Regions from separate parts of the Homo sapiens genome. Here region 1 is linked to region 2. The links come from fine-mapping of genetic effects on gene expression. A gene starts in region 2. The other region holds a variant in brackets. All regions are shown on one strand. Distances are between the middles of the regions. Region 1 holds the start of MIR7973-2 (microRNA 7973-2). Region 2 holds the start of GLDN (gliomedin).

Evidence for each region. PIP is the estimated chance that this variant, and not a neighbour inherited with it, causes the effect.
Region 1: its variant is the best candidate, but not a certain one, in a credible set for the expression of GLDN in sun-exposed skin (GTEx, PIP 0.57).

Annotation. Positions count from the first base shown.
Region 1 is chr15:51,312,124-51,320,455 of GRCh38, forward strand. All of the region lies in intron 1 of CYP19A1 (cytochrome P450 family 19 subfamily A member 1), which reads right to left. It overlaps MIR7973-2 (microRNA 7973-2), which reads right to left and starts at 1,984; the gene lies at 1,909-1,984. It overlaps MIR7973-1 (microRNA 7973-1), which reads left to right and starts at 1,911; the gene lies at 1,911-1,986. LOC112268146 (a long non-coding RNA gene) reads left to right here and starts at 7,805. Exons shown (of 2, transcript XR_002957708.2): 1 at 7,805-8,332. RefSeq lists promoters at 6,400-7,085, 6,400-6,879. The variant C/CT (reference allele first, on the strand shown) is at 4,054.
Region 2 is chr15:51,337,944-51,346,275 of GRCh38, forward strand. GLDN (gliomedin) reads left to right here and starts at 3,712. Exons shown (of 10, transcript NM_181789.4): 1 at 3,712-4,104. The coding sequence starts at 3,742. CYP19A1 (cytochrome P450 family 19 subfamily A member 1) reads right to left here and starts at 653. Exons shown (of 10, transcript NM_000103.4): 1 at 552-653. RefSeq lists promoters at 578-1,155, 578-896, enhancers at 817-896, 2,700-3,063 and cis regulatory regions at 848-865, 930-959, 2,753-2,796, 2,869-2,893.

The sequences.
Region 1 (8,332 bases), 26 kb before region 2:
CTTTCCCAGCAGCTTCCGGCAGAGCCCTGCAAGCACCATGGGAAGCCTGGAATTCATTGGAAAGGACAGGAAGCTCTGTAGAAAACTTTTCATTTTCAATAAATGCATTTCCAATTTCATCATGTTTTCCAGATGCTAAGGCACAGAATATAATGCCCCATTGCCTTGGACTCTGAGTTTGGCGTCCAGTCTGTCAGACTATGTTAACTCACCCATATATGTAAACACATTAACAAGCACCGTTTGCATAGCATTTTACAGTTTACAGAGCAGCTCCAGATGCATTACATCATTTCATCCTCCCAACCTCTGAGGTTGCAATCATCTGTTTCCTCAGAAAAAACAGTCTGAGAGAAGTGGAGGTTTTCCTCCAGACCATCCAGCCCTAGCTTCTCTGGCTTCCAAATTTGTCCTCTTTCCCATCACCAAGAACCAAAGTCCTGGGTAATGCCGGAGCCACGCTGTGAGCACCAGCCTTTGGGCCAGGGGCCGATTATCCCACATTTGCAGAACAGGCTGGAGAAGATTCAGATCTTCTCAGCTCATTTCTCCAGATAGAAACATGTTGCTGAGAGCTGGCTCCAAACCCTTCTCTCCCGCTTCCATTCCCTCCTTTGCCCTGAGGCAGATGGCTTGGCTTGGAGAGGCTCTCTGGTGTTAGACGCAGCAAGTTTTTCTTTCCCACACCCCATATATGATGGCTCTTTTGAAAATATCTTTCCTCCCCTCCCTCCAGCTGCTTGTGAGGGTGCAGGGCTTTAACTCAAGCAGACTTGGGGATGGATGGGACTCCTTCAGGTTTCACTGTTGACTGGCCTTGAAGAGCTTTGTGGCTTGGCCCCCACTTGCTCTCCTCTCTGCCAAGGCGTTGTGGTTCCCTCCCACTCTTGCACCTTCATGTGGCCCCCACTCTGCCCTGGTGTGCTGGAGGTCATCTTCCCTCCCTTCATGAGCCATTTTCAGCTCATTTTTTGGGCATATTGTCTCTTCATTTGCAAGAAAAAATACAAAGTAGTCTCTGTGAGTGTGATGATTCTGAGTCATTGCATACTGTCATCATTCTAGAACAAAAAGATGTCAAAAGGTGAGTGGATTGATTTCATCTGCAAGGGAATAGGCCTTCTCTTCTTTGTTTTATTCTCTTCTTTGTTTTACCCTTGATGACTCATTCAACCTGAATCAAAGCTGAGTAGTCTTGGCCTTCAAATAGGAGGCTGGGGTGGTGGGGAGCAGAGCAGAGGCACCACCTAAACTGGGGCCATAGGCCTGAACCTTAGGAGCCATGTTCTTATGGCATGGAGCCTGCAGAAGGGGCTGAGAAAATAGAGAGGTAGCATGCAGAGCCCTTGCTCACGTTTGGACCTCGGTTTTCCCATCTATAAAAAACTTAAGGCCAGGCACAGTGGCTCATGCCTGTAATCCCAGCACTTTGGGAGGCTGAGGTGGGGGGATCACTTGAGGTCAGGAGTTCAAGACCAGCCTGGCCAACATGGTGAAATCCCATCTCTACTAAAAATACAAAAATTAGCTGGGCATGGTGGCGGGCATCTATAATCCCAGCTACTCAGGAGGCTGAGGCAGGAGAATCACTTGAACCTGGGAGGCGGAGGTTGCAGTGAGCTGAGATCATACCACTGCAGTCCAGCCTGGGCGACAGAGTGAGACTCTATCTCAAAACAAACAAAAAACCTCAAAAGGATCACACAAGAGCAGGTTGGGAAAGGGCTGGGGTGCGTGGTCTCAGTGTAAATATTTCCCTGACTGACTGTGCTTTCCTACCTTGGAATTGGAACCTTGATTCAAGAAAGGTTCAACGCTCACCTGGCTTAGGAACCTGGAGAGATGGAGAGAACAGGCTTTGCTGTCAGACAGACTTAGGTTTGGATACTCCCTCTCCTCCTTCCTCGCTGTGTGACCCTAGAATAATTACCCAACGTCTCTGAGTCTCGGTTTTGAGAGGGTGAGTAATTATTCTAGGGTCACACAGCCAGGAGGGAGCAGAGGGAATATCCAAACCTAAGTCTTCCACGGCCTTGGATTCATGTAGTCTCCCTGATGGGTTTGCTGGCCTCACTCACCAGTGCGGCCTATGAGGCAGGACTCTGCAGGAGCCTAGAAGTAGTGAAGCAACACCCTGGGACAGCAGCTTTCAACATGGGGACTAGACCACAGCAGGAGGCCTATGAGAATAAAAGTATTGATTTTGGGAAAGAGGGACTTTTTGCCTTTATCATGGTGGAAGCCAGTATCTGTGGAGTCTCAGGCATGTTGGGCTTTTAGTGGTCCACAGACCCCCTGAGGTTCCTACATAGGTGGCCCGGGGGTCCATGAAAAGCTCTGTGCCATTCTGGGAGAGTGATGAGATTCATCTCTGTAGTCCCTCCTTTCAATAAGAGTTTTAGTAACACCCCCTGGAGAATCAGTTCTTTGGGACTCTCCCAAGAAAACCATGACCAAATCATGCTAAACAAATCACACACTGTTCTGCCTTAGAACTCTAACTTGCATCATTGTTTAGCCTGGAATGTCCTCTCTACCCACCAAAATCCTACCCATGTCGGAGACCCAGCTCCAATTCTAACTCTTCTAGAAAGTCCTTCAAAATCTCTCTAGCCCATTGCAATTTTTCCTTGCTCAAAACACATGGTCATGCCACCATTTTCTTCCTGGAGAATGGCTATTGCTTTTGTTTGTCAGCCTCTGTCTTTGTTTCTTCATAAGTGTTGGTTTCCTCCATTTTCCTCATTTCCTACTTCCGACCCAGTCTCCAAACCTGTTGGTTGTACCTCTTAAAGATGTCTCAAATTCCTCAACCTCTCTGCACCTCTCTGGGCTGTTTCCTGGTTCAAGCCACTGTCCCTGGCAACAGCTCCTAATTGACCTCTCTGAATCCGATCCTGCTTGCTTTCATCCACTCTCTACCCCGAGGCCAGAGGACTCTAACATACAAATCTGCTGCTTCAAGCCCTTTATCTCACTGGCCTTGAGATAACACAGAAACTCTCCAACAGGCCTTTCAAAGTCCTTCACTTACGGGCCCCTGCCTACCTTGCTGGTTGTGTTTCTCAACACTCCCCACCTTCACCACCACCGTCACCCAGGCCTGCTGCAGTCCGGTCAGAAGGTTATGCGTGCTTCTGCACATTCTCTCCATGGGGAGTACACTTCCGTCCCAACTGCCAGACCCCTCATGGTGCATGCTTAGCTCACACATACTCAGTCTTCGGGTTTCCACTGTAATGATATCTCACCCACTCAGCCTTGCCCACCCTACCCCAGTCTACACCCAGAGTACCCCCTCCCCTCCCCATCACTGCAATCTTCATTTCATTTTGTAGTTGCTTGTTTACTTGCCTCTGTCCTTCACTAGACTACAAGCAATTTTAGAGCAAGAACCATATCTGCACAGTTTACTGTTGTATACCCAGTTATATGGTTCTTGCTCTAAACCCAGTGCCAGGCTCAGTGTCTGCTGTTGGTAGAGGCTCAAGAAATAATTCTTGAATAAATGAATGAAAAGTAGAATGAACCTATACATCCAGGCCCTCAAGGGCAGTGACTATTCCTCATGCTTCCCTGGATCTCCCTTCAGTGCCTAATTCAGGGCCCTGCAGATTCTGGGTGCCAAGGAAAGGAAGTGATTGTTTGCTCTTAGCAAAAAGGCCTCGTTATTTTAATAGCACGCTCCTCTATTTCTTCATGTTTCCCTCTCTTCAGATGGAAACTTGAACTACGTGCTGGCAAGAATGTGGCTGACAACACGGTGACCTGGATCTGCCTCCAGGGGTGCTGGCAGAGCAGGGCTCTCACGCAGGGTTAGGAGATGCACAGAATTCAAGGCTTCCGAGTGACAGTTAGCAGAACCTGAATGGGCTGCTCATCAAGGAAAAAGCCCTGATGGAGTCCAGGAACTCAAGTCCCAGTTCTGGTTCCTTCGCCATTCAGCTGTGCCATCATGGGCACATCACTTAGCCTCACTGGAGTTCAGTTTCCTCAGTAGTAAAATGTGGTAAGGTAAGGGGAAGGACTAATAATTTATCTTCACTTACAACT[C/CT]TGAGTTATTATTCTATGAAAAAAATATGTTGGCTGGGCATGTTGGCTCATGTCTCTAATCCCAGCACTTTGGGAGTTTGAGACAGGAGGATTGCTTGAGCCAGGAGTTCAAGACCAGCCTGGGCAACATAGCGAGATCCTGTCTCTACAAAAAATAAAAAAGAAAAAACATGTCATCATATTTCCACTAGAGGTGAAGAAAAATTGGGCTGTTTTCAACCTAAAAGTCAGGACAATTAACTTATCTAAAATGAGTTAAGTGTTTTGTAATAATAATCTCATATATTAGATAGGGCTTTAAACTTCTTAGTGAGTTTTTATATTTTTGGTTCTTTCAGTAGCTGTGGCAGAGGCACTGTATGGGTTGTGAATATCTGTTCTCCCAGTCTCCCCTATCAATTTTATTAGAAATGGCAATATGGCCAGGTATGGTGGCTCACCCCTGTAATCCCAACTCTTTGGAAGGCCGAAGTGGGTGCATTGCTTGAGCCCAGGAGTTGGAGAGCAGCCTGGGCAACATGGGGAGACCTCTGTCTCTTAAAAAAAAAAAAAGGAAGAAAGAAAAGAAAGAAAGAAGGAATGGCAATATGTGCAGTTAAAAACTATATTCCCCAGCCTCTCTTGCAGCTGGATATGACCATGTGACTAAGTTCTAGCCAAAAAGCTATAAGCAAAAGTGTCATGTGCAGCATTTAGGAAGCCTCCCTTAAGGAAGAGAATGCATGCTTTGCCCTTTTCATCCTTTGCTGGCTAAATGAGAATAAGATGTCTGAAACCCAGGCAGCCATATGGGACTATGAGGTAGGGTGCCAAGAGTGCTGGTGTGGCAAGACAGAGGGAGCATGGGTCCCCAACACAAGGAGCCACCTTCCCAGTCCTGGGCTACCCTCCTTTTAGGATTCTTTTGGCATAAGGGAAAAATCACTTCTTTTTTTTTTTTTTTTTGACAGAGTCTCACTCTATCGCCCAGGCTAGAGTGCAATAGCACATTCTCAGCTCACTGCAAGCTCTGCCTCCCAGGTTCACGCCATTCTCCTGTCTCAGCCTCCCGAGTAGCTGGGACTACAGGCCTCCACCACCATGCCTGGCTAATTATTATTTTTTTTGTATTTTTAGTAGAGACAGGGTTTCACCATGTTAGCCAGGATGGTCTTGATCTCCTGACCTCGTGATCGGCCTGCCTTGGCCTCCCAAAGTGCTGGGATTACAGGCGTGAGCCACTGCGCCCGGCAAGAGAAAAATCACTTCTAACTTGCTAAATAAATATTATTTTTGTTTTCCTGCCCCAAACCTAATCCTAACTGAGAAAACAATGATCTGCTTTATGCAAGCCCCTGTGCAAGATGCTGCAGGGGATGCAAAGGTATATGGGCTTTAGATACACAGAGATTTGGGCAAGAACATTCACCCCCACACAGAATGCAAGAACATTCTGTCTAGGGGTGAAAGAAAGGCCCAGAAGAGTTTGATATGGCAGAACCATGTGGGCATGAAGAGGACTCATGGGAGCTGTGGTGAGGGAATATGATGGAAGGTTCTTGAATGCCAGGCTAATGAGGCTGGAGTTCATCCTGTGACAGAGCAGATAATCTTGTTCCAATGTACAAATGAAGAAGCCCAGACCTCAATAGGTTGAAGGACTTGTCCAAGGTCACCCAGCCAGGGAGTGGCAGAGCCCATCTCAATTCTCCTGACACTTGGTCCAGTGCTATCCTTCAATTCTGTGCTCTTTGAGAGAATCTGGGGCAGACGGAGTATAAAGATTTCACACTTTGACACAGCCAGGGAACACGACTGTATCTCCCCACCCCCATCACACCCCAACATGTTCAAGAGGGGGCTTTGGGTGTTGCTAGAAGTGTAGGATCTGGACCTATCCTTAACTCAGAGCACTCTCCCTGGGCCTCCTGTGTAGCTCCCCTCACAAGGCTGTCACAGCTGGGGTGCTATCCCACTGTGTAGTAAGTACCAATGTGTCTAGCACAGTGCTCGGTGCTTTATGTACATGATCTAATTTACTGCCCTCAACAGTCTAAAAATGTAAAAAAAAAAATTTACAGGTGAATATGAAGAAACTGAGGATCTAAGAAATGAAGCCACTTAATTAAAGCCACTCAGTTGATAGCAAAGTGGAGATGCAAAGCCATGTTTGTTCAGCTCCAAAGATAAGTTCCAACAACCACATTCTAACATCTTCCTGATCCCTGCCAAAGCACAGAACAGTCTCTTGTCCCTACTCAGACTCCAAGGACTTACCTGGTTTGATGGGCTGACCAGTGCCAGGGACCTCCTGTCAGGCTCCAGTTGGTCACGTTCTACTTGGAGCCAGGAGCCAGTTTCCCATCACATCACTCATGCCCCGCCCATGACCCCACATGGGTCAGGGATCTCCTGGAGAGGGGGCAGGCCTCTGCCTTCTGTGACCTCAATCTTCCTGGGACTCTTAGTCTTGGTTGGTCATGGGGCAGGGGTGTCAGAGTTTTCCCAATCTAGTTTCTAGATTTCACAGATTCCAGAGGGCTGTTTCCTGGGATCAAGGACACTTTGTTTTTTGTGTCCTGACTGTGGCTGTCATGGTTAGAATGCATTCATTATGAATCGAGCTGACATTCTTTCAGGAAACAACTGGTCATTAGAACAGAATCTTCTCTCATTACCAGCATTTGGAAAGTTGAGTTTCATTTTGTCGGTCATTCAATGTGCATCTTTCCAATAATGTGGTATGTCCAGCATTCCAGCATGAACCACATATTTCCCCAAGCTGACCATACAGCTTTCTTCTGGAACTTTCACAGGAAACACCCTGAGATGTAGCCTGCAGAGCTGAAGACGACAGATGAACCTCAGCCCCTCTGCATTCATTGCGCAACTATGAGGGGACAAGCACTTTGCCCTCAGTTGTCGTCAGCCCACACTATTCCTGTCTGGCACAGCCTTCCTTCCCATTGGCCAAACTCTCACCATTCCTTTTCAAGCTCCGCCTAAGTGTCTCACCCCTACACCCTTTCCCTTAATCAGGCTGAAGTTGGAATGTGTTCACCCAATTTTATTACAACTAAATATATTCAGCTTAGCCTAAGCTTTAGCAGATTTTAATAGTTATTAATGGAATATTCATCTATTTCCCTATACGCACTGTAATCAACATTCCCATTCTCAAATGCACTACTTAAAGTATCTGAAGATCAGACACTTTAAGTAATTTAAATTTATGACAAAGTTTTCTGAAGATATAAGCAGATCCTGTTAGATACAGATGCACATACAATTCTTATGAACAATTTCATGCACTGTAGCATGATCAAAATATCTGACCAGAGCCTGTCACTGCACCTTGTAGACATTCTTACAAACAGCTCTTATCTAATCCTCATAACCCATCACCTGTCACCCATAAGGGACAACTAAACCATGGATCCACATGATTACTGAAGGCTTGTTTCTTCATTGGCTGCAGGAATCTCATGAAAATCATGTCTTCATATATAGCAAAACTTTGGGCTTATGCATCCTTCTAGGAAGAATAAGCAGTTAATGGGCATGAAAGGCCTTTGAACCCTATGTAGCCCTGCACGTGTGCAAGCTGCTCTTTTAAGTGGACAGCAAAAGACAGTGGCAGACGTCAGGCTGGGCTCCAGATCCAGCTCTACCTTAATAGTCAGGTGATCTCTATCAGGTCATTTGTATTCTCTGAACCTCAGGTTTCTTGTCTGCCAATGGAAATTATAATAATGCCTGCCCTGCTGTGAAGTTCAGATGAGCTCATGGATGTGAACACCTTCTGAGGGTCACAGAGCGACACTTGAATGCCAGCCATCATTTGTTCACGTATATTAACTCTTACTTTCTACAACACTAGGAGATAGATATCATCCCCTCCTTTCACAGATGTGGAGACTCCAATGAGTAGACCTTTGAGGATCTGACCTTCCAACTCAAATCTCCCCATCCAATGCTCTTCCCCTCTGTGCTCAGGCACCATCCTCGGCTCCCATCCCTGCTCACAGCTGCATCATGTGCATACTGTGAGCATCACATTGTATAGTCTTACCTTAAGTCTGGGGTCCAATCAGTTGTCAAGAGCCACACACTGGGAAGAGGGAGATCAAGGAAAACCAGCCAAGCTCCTCCCAATATGAGGATGTTTGCCAAGTTCCAGGGAGCACCTGCTACCCCCAGCCCTGGGTGAAGTAAGCACTGGAGAGAACAGACAGGATACAATGGCATTGCCCTGAGAAGGCTTTTTATCTGGCTGAGGCAAGGACTTAGAGACACAGGT
Region 2 (8,332 bases):
TCCTTCTGCCCCTCTTGCCCCAGAGCAATATCCCAGGCTTTCCACCAACCCAGCCCACGGGGTGGCCATGCTACAAGCCTTTTGAGTCCTGCATCCCAAGAGGGGCAGCTTCTTGGCCTGAAGTTGTCTAATAGAGCCTGCCTGGCTCCAAGCAGGCCTCATCTCTGCTCTGTCTACTGGATCTGGGCTCTGAACTGGGGTGGGAGGTGGGGAAATGGGGAGGCTGGTTCAGGCTACCACTTCCTCTCCTCACCATTGGATAGCCAGCCTTTCAAGGAAAGTAGGGGGCCAGTTCTGTGGCATAGAACAGTATAGTTCTTAGGCCCTCCTATTTCAGAAAAACACTCAAGCAGTGTTTTCCCTCTGCTCTCACACCACGACAACAGTCATCAACACAGAAGACTTCTGCGACCAAATGTAGGGGATTTTCCCCCACACACCAAGCAGCGGGCACCAGCTGGGTGTCCTCCAACTCAGTTCCAACACTATCTACCTGGAAAGAGTGTCTGATCCCACAGGTTGAGGGCTCAGTCAGATTAAGAGATACATACGCGACGTCTGGAAGATCCCGAGCACAGGACCTTCCGTCCTGATAGGATAAGTTCTTCTTCACCTTCCTGTTTGCCTCCACGTGTTCAGCCCTCCAGAAACTCCCTGAACCCTGTCCTTTGGGCCTTTTATGGAGATTTCATTTGTTGTCCATGACTGAAGCATGTGATTGAACAAAATGTGATTGGACAAAAAGGGTATGATCTAATCTCAGCAAGGTCTGTCTGTCCAGATTCTTCTTCCTCTCTTTGTGCAGCATTCCTTCCTCCAGGGTATGGGGCATGACCTCCTCTGGAATGAGGGTCTTATGACCCACAATCAGATTATAGAGTCCCGCCTTGGGTGGATGAAAGGAGGGCAAAGAAGGCCAGAGAAATATTCTGTTTCCTGAGGCCTAAAGCACCTCTACATTATAGCAAAAGACCTCAGCAAGTGTCATGGGAGTTATGGACAAGAACCATGGACAAAAATCTATATACATGTAATCATAAGATCACACCCCCCACCACACACCACATTGTTCTACATAGAAGTGCCTTCACTATACAGCTTTTCATTTATTCATTCGTTCATTCACTCATTTATTCAACGGGTAATAGTGAATTCCAAATCAGGAACTGTGCTATGTGTTGGGGGTGACATGGCCCCTAGCCTCAGGAGGCTTCTATTCCATGGTTAATGGTGGGTATTGCTGAGAGATGATCAGTCAACAGTAACTGCAATGAATGTTAGGATAAAGAGAAGCCCAGAAGGCTCCACGGTGTTCCAGCTGCTCACAGGGTAATCTGCCTGTCTTTTTTACTTCCGTATCTCCAATGCCCATTATCATACCAGGCACAGGAAGTGCTCAGTTAAGTGTTTACTGAATTAAATGAAGATCTGAATGATGCTGAGTGTCAACCCTCCCTCTCAGTGGCTCCTCCCCATTGGCCCTAAACCTGATACCTGGATGAAAAGAGATAAGGATACATGACAGTTCTTCAAGTAGGTCACAGAACGTTTGAGTTGGGAGGAAATGGACAAAGCTTTTTACATCACTGCCATCCCCTCCCAGTCATCATATCCCCACAGTGGGGGTACTTTATGAAACACTTGGACCTTCATGCTTTCCTAATTTCTTCTTATCCTGTATGCTCTTCTAAGAATACTGAAGTTGGTCAATGTTCCTATTAAAACTCAGGAATCTAAACTTTGACTCAGAATTTCTGATTGAGATGTCACTTCAGTTTCCTTGTGCATTCTCAGAGGCTCTACCCTGGCTCACCCTGGAGAGTAGGGGGCAAGAAGTCTGATACTACTCAGCTTTCTCTCCTGTGCCAAAAAATCCTACCTGCAAGAATTGGTATGTGTATTAGTCCATTCTTGCCTTGCTATAAAGAAAAGCCCGAGACTGGGTAACTTACAAGAAAAGAAGTTTAATTGGCTCATGGTTCCACAGGCTGAACAGGAAGCATGGCAGCACCTGCATCTGGGGAGGCCTCAGGGAGCTTTTACTCATGGAGGAAGGCAAAGCAGGAGCAGGAACATCTCACATGGTGGGAGCAGGAGGAAGAGGGGCCAGGAGAGATGCTACACACTTTTAAACAACCAGATCTCATGATAACTCACTATCATGAGAACAGCACTGAGGGGATGGTGCTAAACCATTCATGAAGGACCACTCCCATGATCCAGTCACCTCCCACTGGGCTCCACCACCAATACTGGGAATCGCAATTCAACATGAGATTTGGGTGGGGACACAGATCCAAACCACATCAGAATGTGAATCTTTGGGGAGTAGATGGTTACAGAGCTCCTACCATTAAGTCAAAAGGAGCTTGCTCTCTGATCATTTTACTGGTCTCCCTCAGGTGCTGAAACAGTGTGGTCTCTGATAGAGGAAGTCCTTTCTCTATAACTGCTCCAGCTGGCTCATTGGCGGGGAGGCACCTCTTCCTTGAGTTATTGGGCTATGGAAACAGCAATCCTGCCTTCTGGTTGGGTCTCCCAAATGGGAGACATCCAAACAGAGTGATTTTTTTTTTTTCTTAAACAATGTCAAACCCGAGGTTCTTAACATGGGGCTTGAAGATTGCTGTCTACGTTAGTTTCCCATAGGTCCTGGGGCCCCAGGGAAGCAGAGCCATTCTAGGAGAAGCTGAGAAAGATCTTGAGTGAAGAGGTTCTCTGAGGAGACTCAAAAGTGACTCTGCATTTGGTTGACAGTGACCCTCGAGGCAGAGCAGGTATTGGGCAACATAAAAGTTGTGAGGAGTAAATGAGAGGCATGGGAAAACATGTTTTCCTAGGGCTAGGTAAGAACCCAACCATGGCCCAGCTCTCCAACCCTTAGGCCAGAAAGCACCTCCTCATGGTCTTGGGACATGCTCAAAGCCTCCCAGCTGAGTAGCAACAGAGTGGCTTTAGAACTAGGTCTCCTGATTCCTGGGGTTTTTTTCCTCACCATCCTGCCATTTTCCAGATATGGATCTCATCGGAGAGTTCCTGACTTGTCAAATCCTGGAACTCTCCTTTCAAGGACGAGTCCTGTTGGCCAGGCAGTCCTGGGCTTTTCTGGTTCTGATGGGTGGCCTTTTTTGCCTTCCAGTGCCAAGTGTCTCCTTGCCCCTATCCATCCCCTTCCTGGGAAAGATCATCTGGGGTCTTCAGTGGCCTCGTGGAGCCTCATGGCCATGGTGGGGAGTGATGCGCAGCCTGGTGCTCGGGCCAGGACCAGACCTCCCATGGACAGTGGGCACGTGCCTTAGCATCTGGGCATGCTGATCTTTTTCTCCAAGAGGGCAGTGTGGGGGTAGAAGGGGGTGGAATCCGGAGACTTCTCTCCATAAGAATTCCTGCTCTCCCCCTCAGTCTGACCCTTGCTTTGCCTGTCTGGGCCACGGCAATGCCCTCAGGCAGAGCAGTGGGAAGAGGAGGAGAGGGTTTGCTCAGCTGGCGGGACTCTGGGAGCACGAGCCCTGCCAGCCCCTCCTCCGCAGGCTGCCTCCACTGGCTCCTCTCCTGCTTCTGCCCGCCTGTCCCTCTGGGCTGCTCGGGCGCCACCACTACTGTCCCCATCCCGCCCCGCCAGCTGGGCCAAAGGGTGACTTGACTCACGACGCTGCCACCAGCCCACGGCTTGCCCGAGGCGTATAAAGGCTGCCAGGGCCGCAGGCTGCCAAGCCCTGCCCTGCCCAAGGCGCATAGAGCATGGCCCGAGGCGCTGAGGGAGGCCGTGGGGACGCGGGTTGGGGCCTGCGTGGCGCCCTGGCGGCCGTGGCGCTGCTCTCGGCGCTCAACGCTGCGGGCACGGTGTTCGCGCTGTGCCAGTGGCGCGGGCTGAGCTCGGCGCTGCGGGCTTTGGAGGCGCAGCGGGGCCGGGAGCAGCGCGAGGACAGTGCCCTGCGCTCCTTCCTGGCCGAGTTGAGCCGCGCGCCGCGCGGGGCGTCCGCACCACCCCAAGACCCGGCCAGCTCAGCTCGCAACAAGCGCAGCCACAGCGGCGAGCCCGCGCCGCATATCCGCGCCGAGAGCCATGACATGCTGATGATGATGACCTACTCCATGGTGCCGGTAGGCGGGGTCTCTGTTCCCCGTGGCGCCCCGGCCAGGTGGGCGGCTGGGGGTGTGGGGCGAGGACGCCGACGCCCTCTTCTCCCCTGGCCAGGCTGCGAGGTGCTGCGGAGAGGGCTGTGGGCATGAGTAGCTGGGGATGTCACCTTGGCAAGCACCTCAACCCACTGGAGTCTGTTTTCTCATCTGTGAGGTTGGGGACAGGGTGAAGGAGGGAGTCTCTTCTACCTCTGACATTCTTTGAGTCCACATGTAAACGAAGGGCGAAGGCAGTGTTTCTAAGAGCCTATTTTCCTTCTCAGCTTAGACAAGTTTTCGTCTCCTGGTGTGAATGGAGCCGCAGCAGCCTTGGGGCTCCGCCTGTGCCACTGACCTGTGGGTGGGGCCCTCTGAGAGGATGGAGGCGCGTTTCTGAAAGAGCGTAGGCTTTTTCAATAAAGGGATTCTTTCCCTGGCATCAACTAGTGGTCTGGCTTTTCACCTGGCATCGCCTCATTCCTGCGAGATGGCCGGCCTAATTGTTTCCGTTTAAGTGAAAACAGCCCTAGTTTTACTGCCCACCTGGGACCTAGATGCTGGGAAAGTTGCCCCTGGATCTCAAGCAATTCCAAATGAGGGACGTCAATATGGTGCAATTTTTTTCTTAAAATGCAGTGTCAAAGCTGAGGTTCTTAACATGGGACCTGCGGATTGGTCTCCCCACTGGGCTCCAGGGAGTACACGGAACTGCAGAAATTGCCAAGTGTGTGTGCCTGTGCCCTCCTGCCCATGTGGATGAGGGTCTGCAGCTTTTCACTAGATCTTCAAGGGGTCCCCCATTGCATGCCTCCCCCAAAAGGTTTAAGAAACACTGCTCTGAAGAAAGTCTTCAAAGCCTCAAAGATTTGTTTTCCAGTGTTAAGTTTCTTTGCTTTTGCCGCTTTTAATTCAATAGGTATTTAACAAATACTATTAGATCACATTGCAGTTCCCCATTCCATTTCATTATTTATTACAATTGCAACAGTCTTGTTTCACTTTATAATTAGAAAGATTTCGGCTATTACCTCCAGTCAAGTGTGAGCCATACTTCAGAATCCTAGGTATTTGAAAATAAATTGACTTAAACTTCCGTTATCACAGAAGCTTTTAAATAACTTACATGAGCTGAAATGCTTTTAAAACTACGTAAAAGTACTACATACTTCAAATACATCTTTTGAGAGAGATCAAGTTTTCCATTCCTCACTTCATTTGTTTTTTAAATTCATGTTATCATTTAAAAATCTGGACCTAAGCAGAAGTTTCAAAAAAGGACTGCTATAAGATGAAAAAAACCTCCTTAGGGGAATTCATTCTCGCCCTTTCAGCTCTCTACCCTACATTTTAAGGCTTTTAAAAAATCCTCAAAAAGGGATACATCTGAGCATCATTGTTTTACATTTTTAATCCTGCTTTTAAGGTAGAAGCTTTCGTATCCGAATTGCAACCTATTCCGTCACTAACAAATTGAATGGAGACACTCATCTCTGTGTCAAATTAACTCTAGGTGACCTCGCAGTGCTACCACTAACTCTGTTACAGGTCAGAGAGCAGAACTATCACATGTGTCAGACTGGATATTATTAGTAGATTATCATCAACTAACTCATCCCCCACCTGCAATGGGTATGTTTTGACCTTTTAGAGTCATGAGGGCCTGTCCCTGAGGCTAGGAGAAGGCAATCATCTTACTACTCACTTTCCTCTTGGGAGCAGTTCTCAAACAGTAGGCTTAGGAATCAGCTGGAAGCATATTACAGTGCAGATTCCAGGGCCTCTCCCTCAGACCTATAGAATCCTCTCCAGAATCTGCTTTATTAGAAGTCCTCTGACCCTCATCCCCCCACCTCCTATGCCATTGGTGAGTTCGGTGCAGATGGTCCAGGCACCACACTTTAAGAAATACTACTCAGTCTCTAACACTGAGTCTTTATTGTGCACAGGAATATCTTGGGGATCTTGTTAATATGCAGATTCTGATTCAGATGGTCTAAGCTGGGGCCTAAGATTCTGCGTTTCTACCAAGCTCCCACTGCTACCAATGCTACTGGCCTGAAGACCACATTTTGAGTAGTAAGGTTGCCTACTGGAACTATTTGGGGAGCTTTCAAACTTACTGATGCCTGAATCCCATCCCCAGAGATTCTGAATTAATTTGTTAGGCCACAGCCTGGGGATGGAGTGCTTATTCTCCAGCAGGAAGGACCTTGGCATAACTTCCTATCGATAGTAGCTGTGTTAGGCATCACACTCCCACCAGACCCCATCAAGGCCTTTGCTTCAGGACGAGGAGCCAATTTTATTACTGAAAAGCTTTTTAATTTATGACAGCAATATTCTTTCCATTCAGCTTCACAGTTTTCCTCATCTTTACTCTCTGCTTTTCTCAGAACAATTATTCATATAAGAAAACAATTTTATAAAAAACATCATTTGGTAGCTCTTGGAGAGAAGTTAAGAGAATGATCTAGTATATATCGTGGAGGCAAGTGTATACACTTCTTATAGGTGAAGGCTACACCTTCCCTGGCCCTTTTATACACCACCAGATCTTGAATGAGAGTGAGATCCAAGGTCCTCACTGTGAGGTCTTATGTCCTTAGAGGTCTAGGAACGAAGAAACAAACTCTATGCAGACTAATGTCAACATTTCAAAAAGCCTTCCAGAATGGTTCATTTATCCAAGATGAACCTCAATTTAACTGATACTTTGAGTTTCTCTACTGTTGGCTGAAAATACATCAACTCAGCATAAGAATTCTGTTTAGCTGAGCACATTCTTACCAGAACCTGGTTGGCAGCTGTAAATGACTTCATTAAAAAGGCAAGATAATTATTAAGTACAGTTAATTTGACACAGCCAAGAAGCACATTAAATCTTTAAAACCATGTGCATACTTTTGGGAGACAGTAATAAGAGGAGCCCTGGATGGGGCTTGGAAACTACTGAATTAGGCCAATAAGGAAATGGGGATCTGGTGAGCGGGGAGAGAGAAAATTTGACCCATCTGCTACTAACTCCTGTGGGAGATGCTACTTCTGTTTACTCTCTTTTTCTCTGACCTCCTCTCATATTCTTTTTGTTCTCTTCCCATCAGCTACCCTCTCTCATTCCTCTCTTCCTGTCTCACATTTGCTGATGTTCTGGTAGCTTTATCATCCTGTCTTTACTTGTCCAAAATCTAGGGTCAAGCACCCAGAGGGAGTTTCATAAATATTTTCATAAATTAAACAAACATAGAGAAGATATAAGACACTGAGACTGGTGATTACGTATCCATGATAATTGTTGTCCTTGAGGGACTGTATGCATTTCTACGCCCAGGATATTGTTCAAAATGTCCTTGGCACCTCTCTAACAAGAAAATCAGCCTGGCTACTTTAAAGCAGGAGTTACAATTCAAATGTTCTTTTAAGGAAGGCAAATATGATTCCATAATAGTCAAATGATGAAAAGGCATTTGATAAAATTTAACATCAATGCTTGATTTTTAAAACATGCAATAAAATGGGAATCAATGTATTCTTTCTTAACATGATAAAATGTAATTGTGTCTCACCCCCAAAACTATAGCTTTCCACTGAACTGTCAAATCCTGGAGATGGTCCTACTAAAATCAGTATTAAGACAGGGATGCCCACTATCACCAATAGTATCTCGAATTGTCCTAGGAGGACCAGCCAGAGCAACAAGACAAGGGAAAATGGTCTAAATATGTTAAGAAGTGAGAGTCTGGCTATATTCAGATCATACGATTATATACCTGGAAAATCTGTTGATAACCTACTACTAAAAATAACAGAATTCAGTGGGAAACAAGGTATTAAAATATTACTAAGAAATCAATAGACTTCTTATACCCAAACAATCATCTGTTGAAAGATATAATGGAAGAAAAGATGTGCAAAACCTGTGTGTGTATCTATATACTTACCTTTTGTGTTAAGAAAGGGCTGGGGGACCACTCTTGTAGAACAGAAAATATTTAAACCAAATGGTAAAAATAGTATGTTTTTGGATAGAAAACTTAGCATCATAATAAGTTAACTGAAAGTTAACTTAGAAATCTGATGTCATCCCAACATAAAACTATCAATAGATTTTTTTTTCTGGGATTAGACAAACTGATTCAAAAGTTCACATGGAAAAATAAGCATTCCTGGCAAGGAAACCGCTGAAAAAGAACAAGGAGGAACACTAGGTTCT